Linked DNA regions of Homo sapiens: all the other regions are linked to region 1. The links come from fine-mapping of genetic effects on gene expression. A gene starts in region 1. Each other region holds a variant in brackets. All regions are shown on one strand. Distances are from middle to middle.

Region 1 (6,642 bases):
TAATTTTCTTTTAAAGACTTTTCAATTACAGTACTCCAAGTTAAAATGAATTATTCCAGAATCATACTGCTAATGCACAAGACAGAATTTTTTTTTTTTTTGAAACAGAGTCTCATTCTGTTGCCCAGGCTGGAGTGCAGTGGTGCAATCTCGGCTCACTGCAACCTCCGCCTCCCGGGTTCAAGCCATTCTTCTGCCTCAACCTCCTGAGTAGCTGGAACTACAGGTGCTCGCCACCACGCCCGGCTAATTTTTTGTATTTTTAGTAGTGAAGGGGTTTCACCATCTTTGCCAGGCTGTTCTCAAACTCCTGACCTCGTGATCCACCAGCCTTGGCTTCCCAAAGTGCTGGGATTACAGGCCTGAGCCACTGCAGCCCGGCAGAAAGAACTGAATTCGTTAAAAAAAAAAAAAAAAAAAAAAAAAGACACACTTAGCTTTTATCTTTAATGTAATGTCCCTGCAAGAAAGCTTATTTCAAAAGACCAGTCAAGAAGACATTAGTAAGCAACCATTTTTAAACTACTTTTTATTTGCATATCGCCTAGAAAAAGGGTCTCACGTACAACAGTACTTCACTCCTTACTGAATTCTATTTTATTTGCTCGGGAGGTGCGTGGCACTTTTTAGAAATAATTTTTATACAGAGAAGGAAATGCACAGCATAATCATTTTCAAAATACAGTTAAATTATTTAATATAATCTTTAATAACCTAGCTCTAATATCACTGAATTTCCTTAGCAAATTGTTAGTGTTGGCAAGCTGTTAAAACAACCATTCTAAAATATAAAAATATAAATCTCGCTATTGATGCTTAAGTTGTACATTTTCAAAGCCTTTGTAATTAAATATCTTATGGCAGAAATATTTCCTATAACTGCTCTAGAAATATTACAGCCTCCCGCTTAGTCCACAATCCCCATCTTCTATATGCCAAAAGCTGGTATATGCCTCTTATTTCAAATGCTGATTGGACAATTAAGTCATTTCCATCTATACATAAAATGCCCCTATAATTTAGGATCACAGGCAATTTAGATTTCTGCTCATTGAAATGCAGAACCTGAAGCAACCTCTAGTGACAGGAGCTATAGTGTTCAATATCATTTTACATGTTACAAGCAGAGGATTCATTGTACATACAAACAATGAACCCTGGCAGAGTTCTTTATCCTAAAGCCCCACAGATTGTTATTTAACGGTATTAATAGATAAGGTGACATAAGCAGTAAGTTCTGAAGAGCTTTTTCCAATAGCTATCAACATTTTTTTTAAGAGAGCAAAAACAGTATTCCCACATTTTCTGTTTCTTCTGTTCATTTTATTTCCCTGCTTTTGGTATCCAACAGAAGTGGTTTCAAATGAAAATCTTAAAATAATTATTCCAAAGACCAAGGATATTCTAAAAACCAGTAACAGTCTTTGCCTCTGAGAAGGGGAAACTGTAGGGTTTGGCGTGAAAGAGAGATTCACTTTTCAATGTGTTTGTACCTTTCCAATTGGATATCATTCGGTAGAACCATATTCTAAATGAGCATACATTTAAAATATTTTCAAGAACAAACAATTCACAAACTTACAGGTTTCCATTAACATTTTCGTTTGTGCAGCATTCGCTGAAGACCTAAGATTTTTATTCCTCCAATCACCTTCTCAACAACCTGCTGCAACAAATACTGAAGCTTTTTTGCAGCCAGGGATCAGTTAGGTGGATCCGAGGCCAGGCATTTAAATCAAAGAGATGCAGCAATCTTACTCAATACTACTACCACTCTCACGCATCTCATTCAACTCCATTTAAAACCACTGCAGCAAGACAGCTGGTACTCTCCTTCCTGTTTCTTTACCGTACAGGCTTAATAACAAAAACAGGTTGGTTTTGAAGCCCTGCTCAAATATTGCAAAAAGGAAGTCTTCGCATTCGGGAGGGGGAAAAAAGTTTCGACTTCGAGAGAATCTCATAGCTTCCGTGTCATTCCATTTGGGAATCCCAGATCCTGCCAGTGAGGTAGATGCTCGCTCTCTCGGTTAACTTTTCCACCCTAGATGCCCTCAAACTGCCTAGGAAGCAACTAAGTCTCCCAACGACCCATGGCTAGTTTTGTTAAGGCAGGTACAAGACAAGCAGTTTATTTAAACCATGACGAACTGGGTCGATGTTCATAAAATGAGAGATGGGGAGAGCAAAAAAAAAAAAAAAGTAGTAATAAAGACAGCCAAACTCCTAATTTTATCAACCAACTTCCCACTTGCCATTTCCCAGCCTTCACACCAGAGGTAGTAAAACGCCTTTTTACCGAGAAAACTAAGAAGCTACCCGAGCCCAACATGAAAATTCCGCGGACAATTCGTGTTAAAATATTTTTTAAATGCCCAAGTGAGGAGGAAACACAGCAACCAAATCTCACCCGGCTGGGAGGCTGGGGTGGGGGGGGTCCCCGCGGCTTTTCCCTCCCGTGCGTCCCAGAAGCTGCTAAGGAGCCGGGGCAGCAGGAGGACGACGCGGGGAGCTTTCAAAAGGGCTGGGGGAGGCAAGAGGAAGAAAAAACTTTAGGGACAGAAGGGGAAAGTGGGCCCCTGCAGTCCCCCCGCAAACTCCTCGGGTGACCCCTCCGCGCGGGGACCCCCTCGGATCCCCAAGCGGACTGCCACCCAGCTTCGTCTCAGCTCCTACCGCCGCGGGCCGCCCCCCGGGCTGAGGGGAAGCGGCGCGGCCCCGACACCCCGAAACTACCTCAGCGCGTCCCCCGGCCGGCGCGCCCCTCAGTGCCTTGGCAGATCTGAAGCCGCTGGCTCTCGCAGCCTGGGGAACTCGCCCCTCTTCCCTCCGCCTCGCACTCCACCCCCTCGCCCGCCACCGCCTCCTCCTTTATCTCCACTCACCTCCCGCCGCCATTTTCCTCGCAGCTCAGCTTTAAATCGGAAACTCGCCGCTCAGCCCGCAGCCGCCGCCGGCCGCCACCGACTAAGCCGCAGCCGCTGCCGTCGCTGTGGAGCGGCTGAGACAGCAGCAGCTAAAGTCGCCGCACGGGGGCCACTGGGATATGTAGTCCCGAGGCCACGCCCAGCACTACCGGTCCCAGGGGGCCTTGCGCGGCCGGCCTAGGGTTCCAGCGACCCCCACCCTGGCTTCCGCGGCGGAGGGCGTGGCGACGTGGGCTCGTGCGGCCGCTTTCGCCCAGCATCGACTGGGAGCTCCCTCGGGATCCGGAGAACCGGAATGCAGTCCTAGCCCTGCCCTTAATTTTTTTCATATTTGCCTTCGTCCAGTAATACCTAACATTTGTGGAGCGTTTCTGGTATGCCAAGCACGGATCCTCAAAACAAGCATCCGGTAGGGACCATGATCATCCTCATTTTTCAGATGAGCGAACTGAGGCACAAGGTCGGAAGCCACGAGGCTGTTCCTTAGCTGCTAAAGTCACTGGGTGAAATGTTGTTGGGCAGCAGTATATTCAGGGTATATTTAGTCCCGAAGTATCATCCCACAGCGTATTTATGACTTACAATAAAGAACAGCTTGCTTTACAATGGAAAGATCTGGCAGGCACCCCCTTACCAAGTGATCGAACTTAGCACCACCAATAATGGGTCAGGACTGTTGTTATGTGTCTCCTAATATGATGCAGTGGGGAAAGCATATTGCTACCTCTGTCGTATTCTTGCCACATACACACAAAAAGCTTACTTGAAAAAATAAACGAATTCAGAATGTGGGACATTCTACACAACATCTAGCCTGGAGTCTTTTAAAATATGACAGCATGAAAGAGGTGAAAACCAAAAGCAATAGGTGAGACTTGATTGGATTCAGGATGATTTTTTTATGTAAAAAGAATTTGGGGGGCAATTTCAATGTGGACTGTATGTTAGATAATATTGAGTCAGTATTAGATGTGTTGAGTGTAAATAAAATAGAATAATCTGACCACTTACCACCTCCACGGTCAGCACCATCATTTCCCACCTGGACCACTGCAACAGCCTCCTCAGTGTTCTGCCTGCTTCCACTCTTTCCTCTTAGAGTCTATACTCAACACAGCAGCCAGAGGAATCCTGGTAAGAACCAAGTCAGTCTCTGTCCCTCCTGCAAAATTCTTGCAGTAACCTGCAAAGCCCCATACAGCCCGTCTCTTGCCCTGCCCTTCCCTCTCTAAACTCATCACCTTCTTCTCTTCCACTCACTTCTGTAACTCAGCTACAATGGACTCGGCCTCTCCAACGTGCTTAGCACACTCTGGCCTTAAAGATCGTGCACTTGCTATTTCCTCTGCCTAGAACAGTATTTTCCCAGAAAATTCAAATAACCCATTCCCTAATCTCCCCATGGTCATTGTCCAAATGTCACTTATTCAGTGAGGCTTTCCCTAACTGCTCTATTTTAACTTCCTGCCCACTCTGATCCCAGCTTTCCCTACTCCTATTCCTTTCTTCATTTATTTTCAGAGCATGAATTATCATTAAAATCATGATATATTTCTGTTTACTTATGTTATTTAAAATATCTCATTTTGGCTGGGCGCGGTGACTCACGAATGTAATCCCAGCACTTTGGGAGGCCAAGGCAGGCAGATCACCTGAGGTCGGGAGTTCAAGACCAGCCTGACCAATATGGAGAAACCCCGTCACTACTAAAAATACATAATTAGCTGGGCATGGTAGCACATGCCTGTAATCCGAGCTACTCAGGAGGCTGAGGCAGGAGAATCACTTGAACCTGGGGGCAGAGGTTGCGGTGAGCCGAGATGGCACCATTGCACTCCAACCTGGGCAACAAGAGTGAAACTCCGTCTCAAAAAAAAAAAAAGTAAAAATTAAAAAATTAAATATCTCATTTCTGGGCCGGGCACGGTGGCTCACACCTGTAATCCCAACACTTTGGGAGGCCAAGGTGGGCAGATCACCTGAGGTCAGAAGTTCCAGACCAGCCTGCCCAACATGGCGAAACCCCGTCTCTACTAAAAATACAAAAGATTAGCTGGGCATGGTGGCAGGCGCCTATAATCCTGGCTACTCGGGAGGCTGAGGCAGGAGAATCACTTGAACCCGGGAGGCAGAGGTTGCAGTGAGCCGAGATCGCGCCACTGCACTCCAGCCTGGGCCACAAGAGCGAAACTCTGTCTCAAAAAAATATATATATATATATTTCCACCAGGGCACAGTGGCTCAGGCCTGTAATCCCAACACTTTGGAAGGCCGAGAGATTGCTTGAGCCCAGGAGTTCAAGACCAGCCTTGGCAACAAAGCAGATACCCAGTCTCTACAAAAAATTTTAAAATTAGCTTGGTGTGGTGGCGCCTGCTTGTATTCCCAAGTACTCAGGAGGCTGAGGTGGGAGGATTGCCTGAGTAGGGGAGGTCAAGGCTGCAGTGAGCCATGCTTGCACCACTGCACTCCAGCCTGGGCGACAGAGTGAGACTCCATTTCAAATATATATATATATAAAATAAAAATAATAAAATAAAATACTGCGTTAGATGCTGAGAACCCAGAGATGAAATGCTCACACGTGTATGGCCTTTCACCTCAGCAACTGCACCTGTCTCCTAGCTACTCTCCTTGCTTCTCTCCCTTTCATCCTCTACAGGGCACTCCCAATACAGTAGCCAGAGGGATCCTTGAAAAATCATGTATTAAATCATGTTACTTCCAACCTAGGCCGGGTACGGTGGCTCACGCCTGTAATTCCAGCACTTTGGGAGGGCAAAGCAGGCAGATCACTTGAGGTCAGGGTTTTGAGGCCAGCCTGACCAATATAGTGAAACCCTGTCTCTACTAAAAATACAAAATTAGCTGGGCATGGTGGCACACACCTGTAGTCCTAGCAACTTGGGAGGCTGAAGCAGGAGAATCTCTTGAACCCAGGAGGCAGAGGTTGCAGTAAGCCAAGATCATGCCACTGCACTCCAGCCAGGGCAACAAGAGCGTAACTCCATCTCAAAAACAAAACAAAACAAAACAAAACAAAAAACTTCCAACCTAAACAGCTTCGAATGGCATCCCATTGCATTTGGGATAAAACTCAGACCCTAGTTGGGTGTGGTGGCCCACGCTTCTAGTCCTAGCTACTCAGAAAGCTGAGGTGAGAGGATTGCTTGAGCCCGGAAGTTCGAGGCTGCAGTGAGCCGTAATTGTGCCAGTGCACTCCAACCTGGGTGACAGAGGGAGACCCTGACTCCATTTAAGAAAACAAACTACTCTGACCCTAATTGATTTGGTCTCTGCTCCCCTCCCTGATCTCAGGTGATATATCTCTCCCTATATCTCACCCCATGTCACACTAACATTCCTGAACACACCAAGCATATTCCTGCCTCAGGACCTGTGCACCTGTTGTTCCTTTTGCCTAGAATTTTCTTTCCTCCTGGCTTGCTCTCTATTGCCATTCAAGTCTCTGCTGCAATGTCTCCTTCTCGGATAGAACTTCTAAAGCACTAAACACACACACAGGCACAAACACAGTCATATCACCCTGCTTTGTCTTCACAATGATTCATACCATACACCATCTGAATTTTTTTAGAAATTTTTTTTTTTTAGATGGAGTTTCACTCTTGTTGCCCAGACTGGAGTGCAATGGCGTGATCTCGGCTCACCACAACCTCCGACTCCCGGGTTCAAGTGATTCTCCTGCCTCAGC
Region 2 (6,642 bases), 23 kb after region 1:
ATAAAAGAAGTTTGCCGTTTATTCTAATTGCAGTAGCCACTGGATGTGTTTTTAACAGAGTGATATGATCTGACTTGCATTTTCCAACGATAACCCCTGTGACTGTGTGGGGAGTTGGGTCAAGACTGGGAGAGGATACCAGATGAGAAGTGGCTGCGGTATTCTAGGCGAGAGGGGATATGAGCTTGGGCTAAGACGATGTAGGAGAAAGGATGGGGGTTCAGGGTATATGTTGAAGCTAGACAAGAAAAACTTCAAAACAGATTAGATGTGGACAGCAAGAGAAAGTAGAGAATTGAACCCCTGGGAAGTGGACATTTTTAGGTTTTGTGGGTGACTTCATGTCTATAACTTGCTTTATGATACTTCAATATAATCAGTTTGTTTGTTTTTGTTTTTTGAGACAGTCTCGTCTCACTGTGTCACCCAGGCTGGAGTACAGTGGTGGGATAATGGCTCACTGCAGCCTCGATCTCTCTGGCTCAATCTATCCTCCCACCTCAGCCTCCTAAGTAGCCGGGACTACTGGCGCACACCACCAAACCTGGCTACTTTTGTATTTTTTGTAGAGACGGGGTTTTGGCCAGGCATGGTGGCTCATACCTGTAATCCTAGCACTTTTGGAGGACAAGGCAGGCGGATCGCTTGAGCTCAGAAATTCAAGACCAGCCTGGGCAACATAATGAGACTCCATCTCTACTAAAAATACCAAAAAATAGCCAGCATGGTGGTGCACACCTGTAGTCCCAGCTACTCGGGAGGCTGAGGTGGGAGGATTGCTTGAGCCTGGGGGAGAAGGTTGCAGTGAGCAACCTGCAGTGAGATTGCACCACTGCACTCCAGCCTGAGTGACAGCGCAAGATCCTGTCAATAGAAAAATAAAGGAAATAAAGGAAAGAAAGGAAAAGAAGAAAGGAAGGAAGGAAGGAAGGAAAGAAGGAAGGAAGGAAGGCAAAGAAGGAAAGAAAGAAAGAAAGAAAAAGAAAGAAAGAAAGGAAGGAAGGAAGGAAGGAAGGAAGGAAGGAAGGAAGAAAGAGAAAGAGAGAGAGAGGAGGGGAGGGAGGGAAGGAAGGAAAGAGAGAAAGAAGGAAGGAGGGAAGGAAGAAAGGAAGGAGGAAGAAAGGAAAGAAGGAGGAAGGAAGGAAGAAAGGAGGGAAGGAAGGAAAGGAAGGAAGAAGAGCTGAGAATTTGTATTTCTTTCTTTCTTTCTTTCTTTCTTTTTATGATGGGGTTTCACCATGTTGCCCAGGCTGGTCCTGAACTCCTGAGCTCAAGCAATCTGCCAGCTTCAGCCTTCCAAAGCTCAAGGTGTGAGCCACTGCACCCAGCCTAATCAGTTTGACATTATATAAATGTCAGTTTAAGCCAATGATTTTTTTGTTTTGTTTTCTTTTAACATACAGGGTCTCCCTCTGTTGTTGCCCAGGCTGAAGCGCAGTGGTGTGATTATAGCTCACTGCAGCCAAATTCCTGGGCTCAAGCCATCGTCCTGCCTCAGCCTCTCAAGTAGTTAAGACTACAGGTGCATGCTACCATGCCTGGCTACTTTTTAAATTTTTAGTAGAGATGAGGTCTTGCTGTGTTGTCCAGGCTGGTCTCCAACTTCTGGCCTCAAGGGATCCTCCTGCCTTGGCCTCCCAAAGTGCTGGGATTACAGACACAAATCACAACACCCAGCTCCCAGTGATTCTCTAAGTGTTATCTGTGGGCCAGAATCACTTGATTAGATTAGATTAGGTTAGGTTAGAAATACGAATTCTCGCTGGCACTGCGGGTCACGGCTGTAATCCCAGCATTTTGGGAGGCGGGTGGATCACAAGGTCAGGAGATCAAGACCATCCTGGCTAACATGGTGAAACCCCGTCTCTACTAAAAATACAAAACATTAGCTGGGCATGGTGGCACACGTCTGTAGTCCCAGCTACTTGGGAGGCTGAGGCAGGAGCATTACTTGAACCCAGGAGCCAGAGGTTGCAGTGAGCCGAGATCGCACCACTGCACTCCAGCCTGGACAACAGAGTGAGACTCGTCTCAAAAAAAAAAAAAAAAAGAATGTAGAATACAAAGATAATTAACCACCACTTAACAGTAATGGCCACATCAGCAAACTAAAATAGAAGTAAATTCCAGAATGTTTTGGAGACAGGTAAGAAACAAAGGGAGTGTTCTCAACAATGGAACCTTATCAGAAAAAGGGAAGCAATGCTAGACTTGTCTGGAACAGCCTCTTCTAGGTGTGGTTCCCCAGAGCCCTGGGAAAAACAGGCCTTATCTTGAAAAGAGGAAGGATTGGATGCAAGGAAGTTTGAAGCAAACAATGGCAGTTCAGGCCTTGTTGGAGAGAACTGAGTTGTGTGCAAAAGTAATAAGGGAAAAAGGCTTTTTAAAGCAGAATTCTGACCACAGAAGGCATGCTGTAGGTGGGGGGAGGAAAAAGTTTGTTTCTAAGAACAGAGAAGACAGAAGAACACATAGGTACAGACAGACAAGGAGACCAGGATTAGAGTCTGGGGTCACCAACTAAAAGGCACATATGACCTTGGGCAAGGGATTTCACCTTCACATTTTAGTATTTCACAATTTTCCCCCTCTAAGAAGTTAGACTCTCAGCTGCCGTAAATTTAAAAATCATTCCCTAAGGCCTTTCTCTTTCTACCATCTTGGAGCCTGTCTGCTTGACAGGGCCTTTTTTTTTTTTCTTTTGAAACAAGGTCTCACTCCATCGCACGGGCTGGAGTGCAGTGGTGCGATCATAGCTCACTGTAACCTAGAGCATCCCAGGATCAAGTGATCCTCTAACCTCAGCCTCCTCAGTAGCTGAGAACACAGGTGCATGCCACCACACCTAGCTAACTTTTTTTAGTGTTTTGTAGAGATGGGATCTCCTTATGTTATATTTAGAGACCCAGGCTGGTCTCTAAATCCTAGGCTCAAGGGATCTTCTCGCCTTGGCCTATCAAAGTGCTGGGATCACTGACATGAGACACCCTGCCCAACCAGGACAGGACTTCTAAAAGGCAGATATGTCTGGAAGGCTGTGGTCTAAGGCCATTTTTCCTTTTTTCCTTTTACTTTTTTTTCTTTTTTTTTTTTTTT[G/TG]ACACGGACTTTCACTCTGTCACCCAGGCTGGAGTGCAATGGCACAATCTCGGCTTACTGCAACCTCCGCCTCCTGTGTTCAAGTGAGTCTCCTGCCTCAGCCTCCCGAGTAGCTGGGATTACAGACATGTGACACCACACCCAGCTAATTTTGTATTTTTAGTAGAGACGGGGTTTCACTATGTTGGTCAGGCTGGTCTCAAACTCCTGACCTCAGGTGATACACCCGCCTCGGCCTCCCAAAGTGCTGGGATTACAGGCGTGAGCCACTGCACTTGGCTTTATTTTCTTTTTATTGTAGAGACACGGTCTCACTATGTTGACCAGCCTGGTCTTGAATTACTGGCCTCGGGTGATCCTCCTGCCTAGGCCTCCCAAAGTGCTGAGATTACAAGCATGAACCACTGGGCCTGGACCCAAGGCCACTTTTGCTGGCTATAAGCAGGGTCTCTTGAACCAAAGGGAGTACACAGCTCTTCTTAACATTGAAGGCATTTATGCCTGAGATGAAACTGAATCCTATTTGGGCAAGAGATGCGCTTATGCATACAAAGCAAAGAACAGGACAGTGACTCCCGGCAGCAAACTGAACAAAACCAGAGTGATGTGAGGAAAGGTAACTCAGACCCATGGAATTATGGGCATAGTTCATGCCAAATTCTGAAACAATCTTCCTGCTAAGGCCACTGGACAAAGATTCCATGTGATGTTATACCCCTCTTAAATAAATGAAAAGTAAATAAATAAAAAATATATATTTTTTGGAGATGGAGTTTCACTCTTGCTGCCCAGGCTGCAGTGCAATGGCGTGATCTCAGCTCACCGCAACCTCTGCCTCCCCAGTTCAAGCGATTCTCCTGCCTCAGCCTCCCAAGTAGCTGGTATTACAGGCACCGACCACCGCACCTGGCTAATTTTTTGTATTTTTAGTAGAGATGGGGTTTCACCATGTTGCCCAGGCTGGTCTGGAACAACTGACCTCAGGTGATCCACCTGCCTCGGCCTCCCAAAGTGCTGGGATACAGGCGTGAGCCACCATGCCCGGCTAAAAGTAAATTTATTAAAACGTAGTATAATAAAAATCATTCCCCAAGAAGGACACACACAATATCACTTTTATAGTATTTTTGCCAAAAATATTCAACCTGAATCTAAACCTGTGGATACAATCAGACAAGTTCAAATTGGAGGTGTTGAAAAAGCTGAACTGCAAAATATTTAAAGAGGTTTATTCTGAGCCAAATATGAGTGATGATGGCTAGCAGAAGACTTTTTTTGGGGGGATGGGTGGGGGGCAGGGTCTTGCTCTGTCATCCAGGCTGGAGAGCAGTAGCATAATCTCAGCTCACTGCAACCTCCACCTCCCGGGCTCAAGCAATCCTCCCGTCTCAGCCTCTGGAGTAGCTGAGACTGCAGGTGTGCACTACCACACCCAGCTAATTTTTTAATTAATTAATTTTATTATTATTTTATTTTTTTATTTTGAGACAGAGTGTCCCTCTGTCATCCAGGCTGGAGTGCAGTGGTGCGATCTCGGCTCATTGTAACCTCTGCCTCCTGGGTTCAAGCAATTCTTCTGCCTTAGCCTCCCGAGTAGCTGGGACTACACGTGCACGCCACCATGCCCGGCTAAGTTTTGTATTTTTAGTAGAGACAGGATTTCACAATATTGGTCAGGCTGGTCTCAAACTCCTGACCTCAGGCAATCCACCCACCTTGGCCTCCCAAAGTGCTGGTATTACAGGTGTGAGCCACTGCGCCTGGCCTAATTTTTTATTTTTTGTAGAGACAGGGTTTCACCATGTTGGCCAGGCTGGTCTCAAACTCCTGACCTCAGGTGATCTGTCTACCTCCGCCTCCCAGAGTACTGGGATTACAGGCATAAACCACCGCACCCGCCCTTTGAGGTTGGTTTTATACATTTTAGGAGGACATAAGATATCAATGAATACATGTGAGGTGTATCGGTTCAGTCCAGAAAGGTGGACCAACTCAAAGTAAGCGAGGGTATTTACAGGTAACAAGTGGTTTCAAAGATTTTCTGATTGGCAATTGGCTGAAAGTTAAGTTACTATCTAGAGATCTAGAATCAAAAGAAAGGAGTGTCTGGGTTACAATAAGGGGCTATGGAGACCAAGGTTTGTATGAAGTAGATGAAGTCTCATAGGTGGCTGCCCTTTGAGACAATAGAGGACAAATGTTTCCTATTTGTTGGGCGGGCATGGTAACTCATGCCTGTAGTCCTAGCACTTCGGGAGGCCAAGGCAAGAGGATCACTTGAGCCCAGGACTTCAAGACCAGCCAGGGCAACAGAGTGAGACCCCATCTCTATAATTTTTTTTTAATGTTTTCTATTTAGACCTTTACAGGATGCTAGATTCTCAGTTAATCTCACCAGGATTTGGAGAGCCTGGAAGATGAAAAATCTAGTTATATTCATAGAAATTCTTTACAATGCAAATTTTCCCCCACAAAAGAAGCCTTTGTAGGGCCGTTTTTTTTTTTTTTCGTAATGGGTTGAGGGGAGGGGGAGAAAGGAGGAGGCTCCTGGGGCCATTTCAATATGTGGCAAGGTAACTTTTTTTTTCTTTTTTTCCTTTTTGAGACAGAGTGTTGATCTGTCGCCCAGGCTGGAGAAAGAAATAACCATAAAAATAGCCAATCAGCAGCCCATGCTACTGCTGTGCCTATGAAGTAGCCATTCTTTCATTCCTTTACTTTCTTTTTTTTTTTTTTTTTTTTTTGAGATGGAGTCTCATGCTCTCTCTCAGGCTGGAGTACAGCGGCGCAATCTTGGCTCACTGCAGCCTCTGCCTCTCTGGTTCAAGCAATTCTCCTGCCGCAATCTCCCGAGTAGCTGGGATTACAGGCAAGTACCACCACACCTGGCTAATTTTTATCTATTTTTTGGTAGAGACAAGGTTTCGCCATGTTGGCCAGGCTGGTCTTGAACTCCTGACCTCAGGCGACCCACCCACCTTGGCCTTCCAAAGCACTGGATTACAGGCATGAGCCACTACCCAGGGCTGAAATGTTGCTTTTTTTGGTCTTTGTTTTGTGGCTGGGTGGGGTGGTGCACACCTGAATCCTGACTACTTGGGAGACTGAGGCAAGAGTATCCCTTGAGAAGTTCAAGGCTGCGGTGAGCTATGATTGCACCACTGCACTCTTGTCTGGGTAACAGAGTGAGACCTTATCTCAAAAAATGAATGAATATATCTTTGTCTTTTGAAATCTACCCTCTCCTTCCAAGTCTGGGTCAGGGACTAGTTGGACTAGGGTGACTGATTTCTCTCCGTTTGCCCAACAGAGTCTCACTCTGTTGCCCAGGCTAGAGTGCAGTGGTGTGATCTCAGCTCACTGCAACCTCTGCCTCCTGAGTTCAGCTGATTCTCTTGCCTCAGCCTAGTGAGTAGCTGGGATTACAGGCATGTGCCATGACACCCAGCTAATTTTATTTATTTTTTTTGAGACAGAGTATCACTCTGTCACCCAGGCTGGGGTGCAGTGGAGTGATCTCAGTTCGCTGCAACCTCTGCCTCCTGG
Region 3 (6,642 bases), 150 kb before region 1:
AAAAAAGATAAAGGGCAATACAGGTAAAAACAAATTATCTCAAAGACTGCACCTATTAAAAGAAATCTTGAGTTTGCACCAAATGAACAAGTAGAAAATATAAAAACTTATAATAAACTTCATTTTTCTACTATATAAAAAAGGGAGTGCTGCCTTCCAGTTAGCCTGGAGCCAGGTCTGAGGAAAGGATTGCAAAAAAATTTATTTTTTTTTTGTTTTTAATAATTTTTTTAAAGTCAAGAAAGATAAGAGCACCATTCTATTTCTCCCCACACACATAACTTAAAGAAGGGTCAGATACAATTGAGCTGAAAAAGAGACAGACTGACCTGGTTCTTCCTCTGTCTCCAAACAGGAGAGTATACTATCTGAAAAGCACAGGCCACTACAATGGAAGTTTTCGGATTTACAATCTTTCTTAGATATATTTTGAACTTGGTAGGGGAAAGAGGGCAAACTCATAATTGTCTATACTGCTTTGAAAATAAGATCCACTCTGGTGGTGGGTCTGGAAATAATCAGGATTCACTTACTCGTAAGCATATCAAAGATATTAAATGATCTTACCTTCAGAGACATCTAGAAAGATTGGCTAAATGTGTGAAATTCTTAAAATTAACTGGCTCTCAGTTATTGCTAGAAAATGATACCAAGGCTAGCAGAGACCTCTGAAATTCACAGACATTCAGAAACCCAATTCCGTCAACTATTTGAACCAAATGAATTAACCCAGATAAAGGGAATTAAACTTGATTTTTCCCTTCCTCCCAACTGACTAAAACAGGTGTCAAAGAGAGGCAACAGCAGAAAAGTGGTAGGGGGCAGAAGAGGGAGGGGTTTAAAAGGTGCTCAGTTAGACTGTGGCTCTGAATCACAGTAAAACTGGCTGTTCTGGGTACTGAGTTACTTAAGAAATAACTGACACTATTCTAATCCACAGGGACATAATGAAAGCATCACATTAGTAGAATGAGGGGACAGCTGAGCAGACACCAGAAACCACACCAAGGATTCTACTCGAGATCTCAATATGGGATTCAGGTCTTAGCAACCAAAATCTGAAAACGCTCCTAAAGGGGATGAAAAGGTAACATAATTAAACATACACACACACACACACACATACACACACACACACAGCCCATGAATTGCTATTATTTCGGACTGCTTAAAATCCAAAAGATTCTCTTCAAATTGCTCGTTTTTTTAAATTCCTGATTTTTTTTTAAGTTTATTTCCCCATATCTATTCTTTCCCCCCAAATTAACAAAGTGCTTAGTTCTGGTAGAGGAATTTTTAAAAAATTAAAATGCCTACATCTAAACAAATAATCTCTTTAAAAAGCATTTAGATTAAGAGATTGAAAAGAGCGAGGCATCTAAGGCTGGGGGGTGGGGAAGGAAAAGCTGTGGAGCACTACCCCTCCCCCAGGCCACAAAAGTCAAGGGATGTCTCTTCCACTGGTAGCCTCACCACACAGCTTACTGAAATCAACAATGTTAAATATTTAGCTTCACAAACTCTGTAAAAATGAGTTGTTGTGACCTACAAAAAAAGGTATATACATATTTTACATAATACAATATCTTAAAGGTCATATTTACAAAAAAATCTATTCACAGAAACACTGCGAGATTCTGATTCAGAATGCAGTACCTGGCCTTGGGTTTTCAGAAGTTTATTTTTAAAAAGCATTATTGCTCTACCATATAGGCAAAGGGTGACACCAGTACTTTAAAAAAAAAAATCATAGTTCTTGTCTAACACGTAAGTGTAGGCAAAAACCAGGAATGTGTTTCACTATTCCCTCAAGACCTCAAGAATATTGCATTTATCCATTCTTTTTAAATAAAGTGCACTCAGCTGCACATTAGCATGTGAAAAGTTTGCTACTGCTGCGATTAAATACTGTCATCTCATTTCCTTTCTGCAAAGCCATTTGGACATCCATGACAGTTCCTGGAGGTGAAGTATTACAGGACATGAATGGCAAATGAAAACCTTCATTAGGAGAAAGCCTAGGGCAAATAATAGGGACAGAGCAACTCAACACCATTAGTAAAGGACAATTCAGAATCACCAATTCCACTGGACAAAGGGTCAACACAGAACTACTACACCTGAAGGCTGGGACTATGCTCTTTGTCCAATACTGCAACTAGAGAAACCAGATATTCTAATCTCTCTTGATTCTTCCAATGTTCTCTGGCCCACCTACGTGTATTTAAGAGATTTTGGCTAGCAAGGCAGAAAAAAGTGACACAAAAGTTTTATGATCAGTAACACTCCATGTCTCCAGAATTATATCCCTAGGAGGTGGAATGCCAAAAAACATTTCTGTTTTGAACACCATGATACACAGCAGAAGGAGGGGGGAAAAACACGTAGATATTGCCCTTCGGCTTAAAATCCAGTCCTGCTCAAATGACATCACTTAAAATACCCTTGATGGAGCTCAAAGCTGGTCCTTTCTTCCAAGATGGATGCCTGGAACAATGATTCCTTCCCAATAATCCTAGTGCAGTGTCATTTGTACAGTGGTTTCCTTAAGAGGTCCTGGTGCAGAGATGTCAGCAGTATTTCTGTCAGCAACCAGGAAAAAAAAAAAAAAAAAAAAAATGAGTAAAACACATGCTTTGCACAACAAAAAAATACCCATGTCCACATTCATGGCTTACAGTGCAGCTCTGGCTGAGTGATTCAGGTTCCTGAGATCCCATCTTACAATGCAGCTCTGGCTTACCAAAAGTATCTAATGGCCCAATGCCTTCAAACCAAGTTTTTTCAATTACTATATTTTAAGTTATACATTCAAGTTAAAATATACCTAGGACATTCTGATTATAGCCTAGGCTTTAGTTCTATCCAGAGAACAAGAAAAACTTTTTGAAAAAGGTAAGGAATCGATCCCATACCTGATCAGGACCCATAGGCATGCCAGACATGGGCATGGGGTTCATGTTCATCTGTCCCATGTGACCACTGCTGCCATTCATGTGCACCATACTATACACTGCAGGATTCCCCTGGTGGGCAAACTGCTGCTGGGAAAAGGAGCTGTAAGTAAACAAATGGTAATATTACCTCTGGAAGTCACTTTAGCGACAAAGGGCATGCCCACAGAAATTACTACAATTGTGTCAAACATTGCTATACTTAAGCTGGGAATGTTAGAGAAAACTCCCTGACAGCCTGTGATCCATTTTTCACAGCTTTCTGTACTAGACACCCTAATAGATATGTGCGTGCTTGAAGGACTCTCAAAATGGACAAGCCAAATCACACCTTCTAATATGAACCCAGTCCTTTCAACCTCTCCATCCAAAAAGGCTTGACTGAAAAATACATTAAGTTCTTGGACTTCTGGGACTAGGATGTGACTAACTTTATAAGTCACTGTTCTTTACCTGTTCCTGGCCAAATTTCCTGATGGCCAGCCCTTCATTTCTGAGGACTGATAGATGGATGCAGCCTGCGGGTGTTGCATCATGGGATTCTGGGAGGGACCCATTCTTGACGACATCATTGCATTGGGAGGACTAGACACTCGACCAAAGGCTGGATCTGGTTGTTGTCCCATTCCTTACAAAAATAAAACAGAAGAAATAAAAATGCCCAAATGCCTTCTCCTTAGAATATCAGATTTCTGTAGTAATTTTGTTTTTTTTTTAAAGGAGGTGGGGGTGGAGGGAAGTGATAAGTGTAAGATACAGAGTGCTATAAGATGCTGCCCCCCCAGGTATTCTAGATTCTCACCAAGATGACGACTAGAGTAACAGGCTTACTACAGAAAGGAGCACCATCTGGATCACTGAAAGATCAGTTGCTTTAATGGGTTTCCTGTAGAAAAGGGACTCCGTATCACTCAACTCACATCACTCCATCCTTCTTTAAAGGGCAGGGGAGTTATAATCCTCAGATGACAGGGCTCCCCAATAGACACCTTTATTCCCACCATGTTCCTGGAACCTCTCAAAGGCTGAAATGAAGAGGTATCTGCATCACTGTAATAATAAATCCAGGGCCGGGCACGGTGACTCACGCCTGTAATCCCAGCACTTTGGGAGGCCGATGCAGGCAGATCACGAGGTCAGGAGATCGAGACCATCCTGGCTAACACAGTGAAACCCCGTCTCTATTAAAAATTTAAAAAAAAAAACAGCCGGGGGTGGTGGAATGCACCTGTAGTCCCAGCTACTCAGGGCTGAGGCAGGA[G/A]AATCACTTGAACCCGGGAGGCAGAGGTTGCAGTGAGCCAAGATCGCACCACTGCACTCCAACCTGGGTGACAGAGCAAGACCCCCATCTCAAAAAAAAAATAATAAATCCAAGTCACCAAGAAAATCAACTTAAAAGCCCACAAAGTGCATTCCTCTCACTGACTTGACCAAGCATTCAGAGATTAGAGAGTTCTACTATACTGGAACATACAAGAAGGGGCAAGGGGACAACTTTGCAGTGTTTCTTCCAGAGTTTGGGGACTCTTAATGAGTGGGACTGAAAAAAATATTCAACTATGACAGGATACACCTGTCTCAATTACCTGTGTGCTGCAGCATTTTTGTTTTCCAATCATTTAAATTAATTTGGTTTTCCTTGTGAAGTAAAGAGGGAGTGAATCGTGTTTTTGTCTTTCATGTGCAATAAATGTAATGAAGCTTATGTCCTTAGTAATGTTAACTTGGGGAAGGCACATTTTCATTGTCAGATTTACCATAATTTGGTTGATATGGAAACTGTTGCGGAGGAGCTTGTGGCATTGTGGGTCCTGCCAAAAGCCCATCCATGCTGGGGGAAGCAGTCACATTAGGAGGTGGGCTGAAGGCCTGGGTTTGCTGCTGTTGCTGCTGTTGCTGTTGCTGTTGCTGTTGCTGCTGCTGCTGCTGCTGCTGCTGCTGTTGCTGCTGCTGCTGCTGCTGCATCATCATAGCCACCCTCTGTTGTCGGAAGTGATGACTTAGCAGCTCTCTGCTGCGTTGGGCGACCATTTGAGCATTAAGAAAACCCTGCTAATACCCAAGAAAGAGTGCAATTACATATATATAGCAAGAACCTGCCAGTTGCATACATATAGTACCCCCACAATACACCAGGTATAAGACAGAAAACACCCAGGGCCTTCTTTTTTTTAACAGGGTCTCACTCTGTCGCCCAGGCTGGAGCGCAGTGGCACAATCTCGCCTCACAGCAACCTTCGTCTCCCAGGTTCAAGTGAGTCTTCTGCCTCAGCCTCCCAAGTAGCTGGGATTACAGGCGTGCACCACCACTCTGGCTAATTTTTGTATTTTTAGTAGAGATAGTGCTTCACCATGTTAGCCAGGCTGGTCTCAAACTCCTAACCTCAGGTGATCCGCCCACCTCGGCCTCCCGAAGTGCTTAAATTACAGGTGTGAGCCACTGTGCCGGCCAAAACATACAATTCTTCACATAAAAGCTTTCTGACCTGGTGCAGTGGCTTACGCCTGTAATCCCAGCACTTTGGGAGGCCAAGGTGGGCGGATCACTTGAGGTCAGGAGTTCGAGACCAGCCTGGCCAAAATGGTGAAACCCTGTCTCTACTAAAAATACCAAAACTAGCCAGCCTTGGTGATGAGCACCTGTAATCCCAGCTACTCAGGAGGCTGAGGCAGGAAAATCCCTTAAACCCAGGGAATTGACGCTGCAGTGAGCCGAGATCGTGCCACTGTACTCCAGCCTGGGCAACAGTGACTCTCAAAAAAAAAAAAAAAAAGCTTTCTGGCTATTGCAAGGGGAGGGAGGGAGAACTGAAGAAGAGGGACCTGAAAATTATTTGGGGTTAAAAGACAAAAGACAACACACTGTCAAGCTTTAACATGACTAGAAACATTCCACAAAGTAAGAAAACATTTAGGGGTGGAATCTGAGGACAAATTTTTCAGGAACTATGAAAGACAATTACAGGAAAATGAGGATTCAGTGTGTTGGGGTGGTGGAGGGCTGAAACATGAAGCCAAAAAAAATAAGATGGGGTTATACTCAGATAAGCAGGGGTCCACCTCAGAAAATCTTGAACTTTCTTTAAACTTTCAGAAAGAGGTAAGGGGCAAGCAGAAGCTATCTGGAGGTTCAGAAGGTGACATAACTGAAGTACAACAAGGAAGCTGATTTCAGCTCTACTAGCTACGGGTCATCTCCAAAAAGCAAGCTTTTATCATCTTTCTGTAGGACATTCTAGCTCAGCTTCCACAAGATGTTTTATTATCAAGAAAATGTAAATATCAGTACTTCCAAGTAGGCATAAGACAATAAAAATCGAGCATTTCACAGTTGCTTTTTAAAAAACAATTATAAACGATATTTCAAATCACAATAGAGGATTGCTGTGTGGTCATCTGCCTCATGCACATTAAAAAAACCCCTCAATACTGTCTCCACCACTGGCTGGAAGTAGAAGGGAATTTTAATATCCCCTCCTACTACAAGAAACAGGTCATCTCAGAGGCTATCACTGAGAACAGGATTATGTATTCTTTATTTTCTTCTTTATAATTTCAGAATTTTACCCAGTGTGCATGTTGTTTCATAATCCAGGAACAGAGGAACATTTACAGATTTATTAAATTCCTAAACAGCCAAGTGATAGCTGTTCTCACAGTACAGCAACTGATCACAAAGGGAACCAAT

Direction of the effects. Positions count from the first base shown, and alleles are read on the strand shown. Sizes are in standard deviations (SD) of each study's normalised expression. Not every link is listed here.
For the expression in monocytes after Pam3CSK4 of the gene that starts at base 3,018 in region 1, G is the high allele of the variant in region 2 and TG is the other (large effect, 1.0 SD a copy in Quach 2016).

Evidence for each region. PIP is the estimated chance that this variant, and not a neighbour inherited with it, causes the effect.
Region 2: its variant is the best candidate, but not a certain one, in a credible set for the expression of NCOA3 in monocytes after Pam3CSK4 (Quach 2016, PIP 0.88).
Region 3: its variant is the best candidate, but not a certain one, in a credible set for the expression of NCOA3 in stomach (GTEx, PIP 0.63).

Annotation. Positions count from the first base shown.
Region 1 is chr20:47,498,263-47,504,904 of GRCh38, reverse strand. NCOA3 (nuclear receptor coactivator 3) reads right to left here and starts at 3,018. Exons shown (of 23, transcript NM_181659.3): 1 at 2,886-3,018. RefSeq lists a silencer at 2,659-2,778 and a cis regulatory region at 4,030-4,102.
Region 2 is chr20:47,475,392-47,482,033 of GRCh38, reverse strand. It overlaps the pseudogene RPL35AP. Among named protein-coding and RNA genes, the nearest start is that of NCOA3, 23 kb to the left of the region's middle. RefSeq lists enhancers at 1,272-1,824, 1,825-2,378. The variant G/TG (reference allele first, on the strand shown) is at 3,097.
Region 3 is chr20:47,649,346-47,655,987 of GRCh38, reverse strand. It overlaps NCOA3 (nuclear receptor coactivator 3), which reads right to left. Exons shown (of 23, transcript NM_181659.3): 20 at 4,712-5,006; 21 at 3,408-3,582; 22 at 2,916-3,057; 23 at 1-2,582. The coding sequence ends at 2,571. Among named protein-coding and RNA genes, the nearest start is that of SULF2, 130 kb to the left of the region's middle. RefSeq lists an enhancer at 6,400-6,642. The variant G/A (reference allele first, on the strand shown) is at 4,216.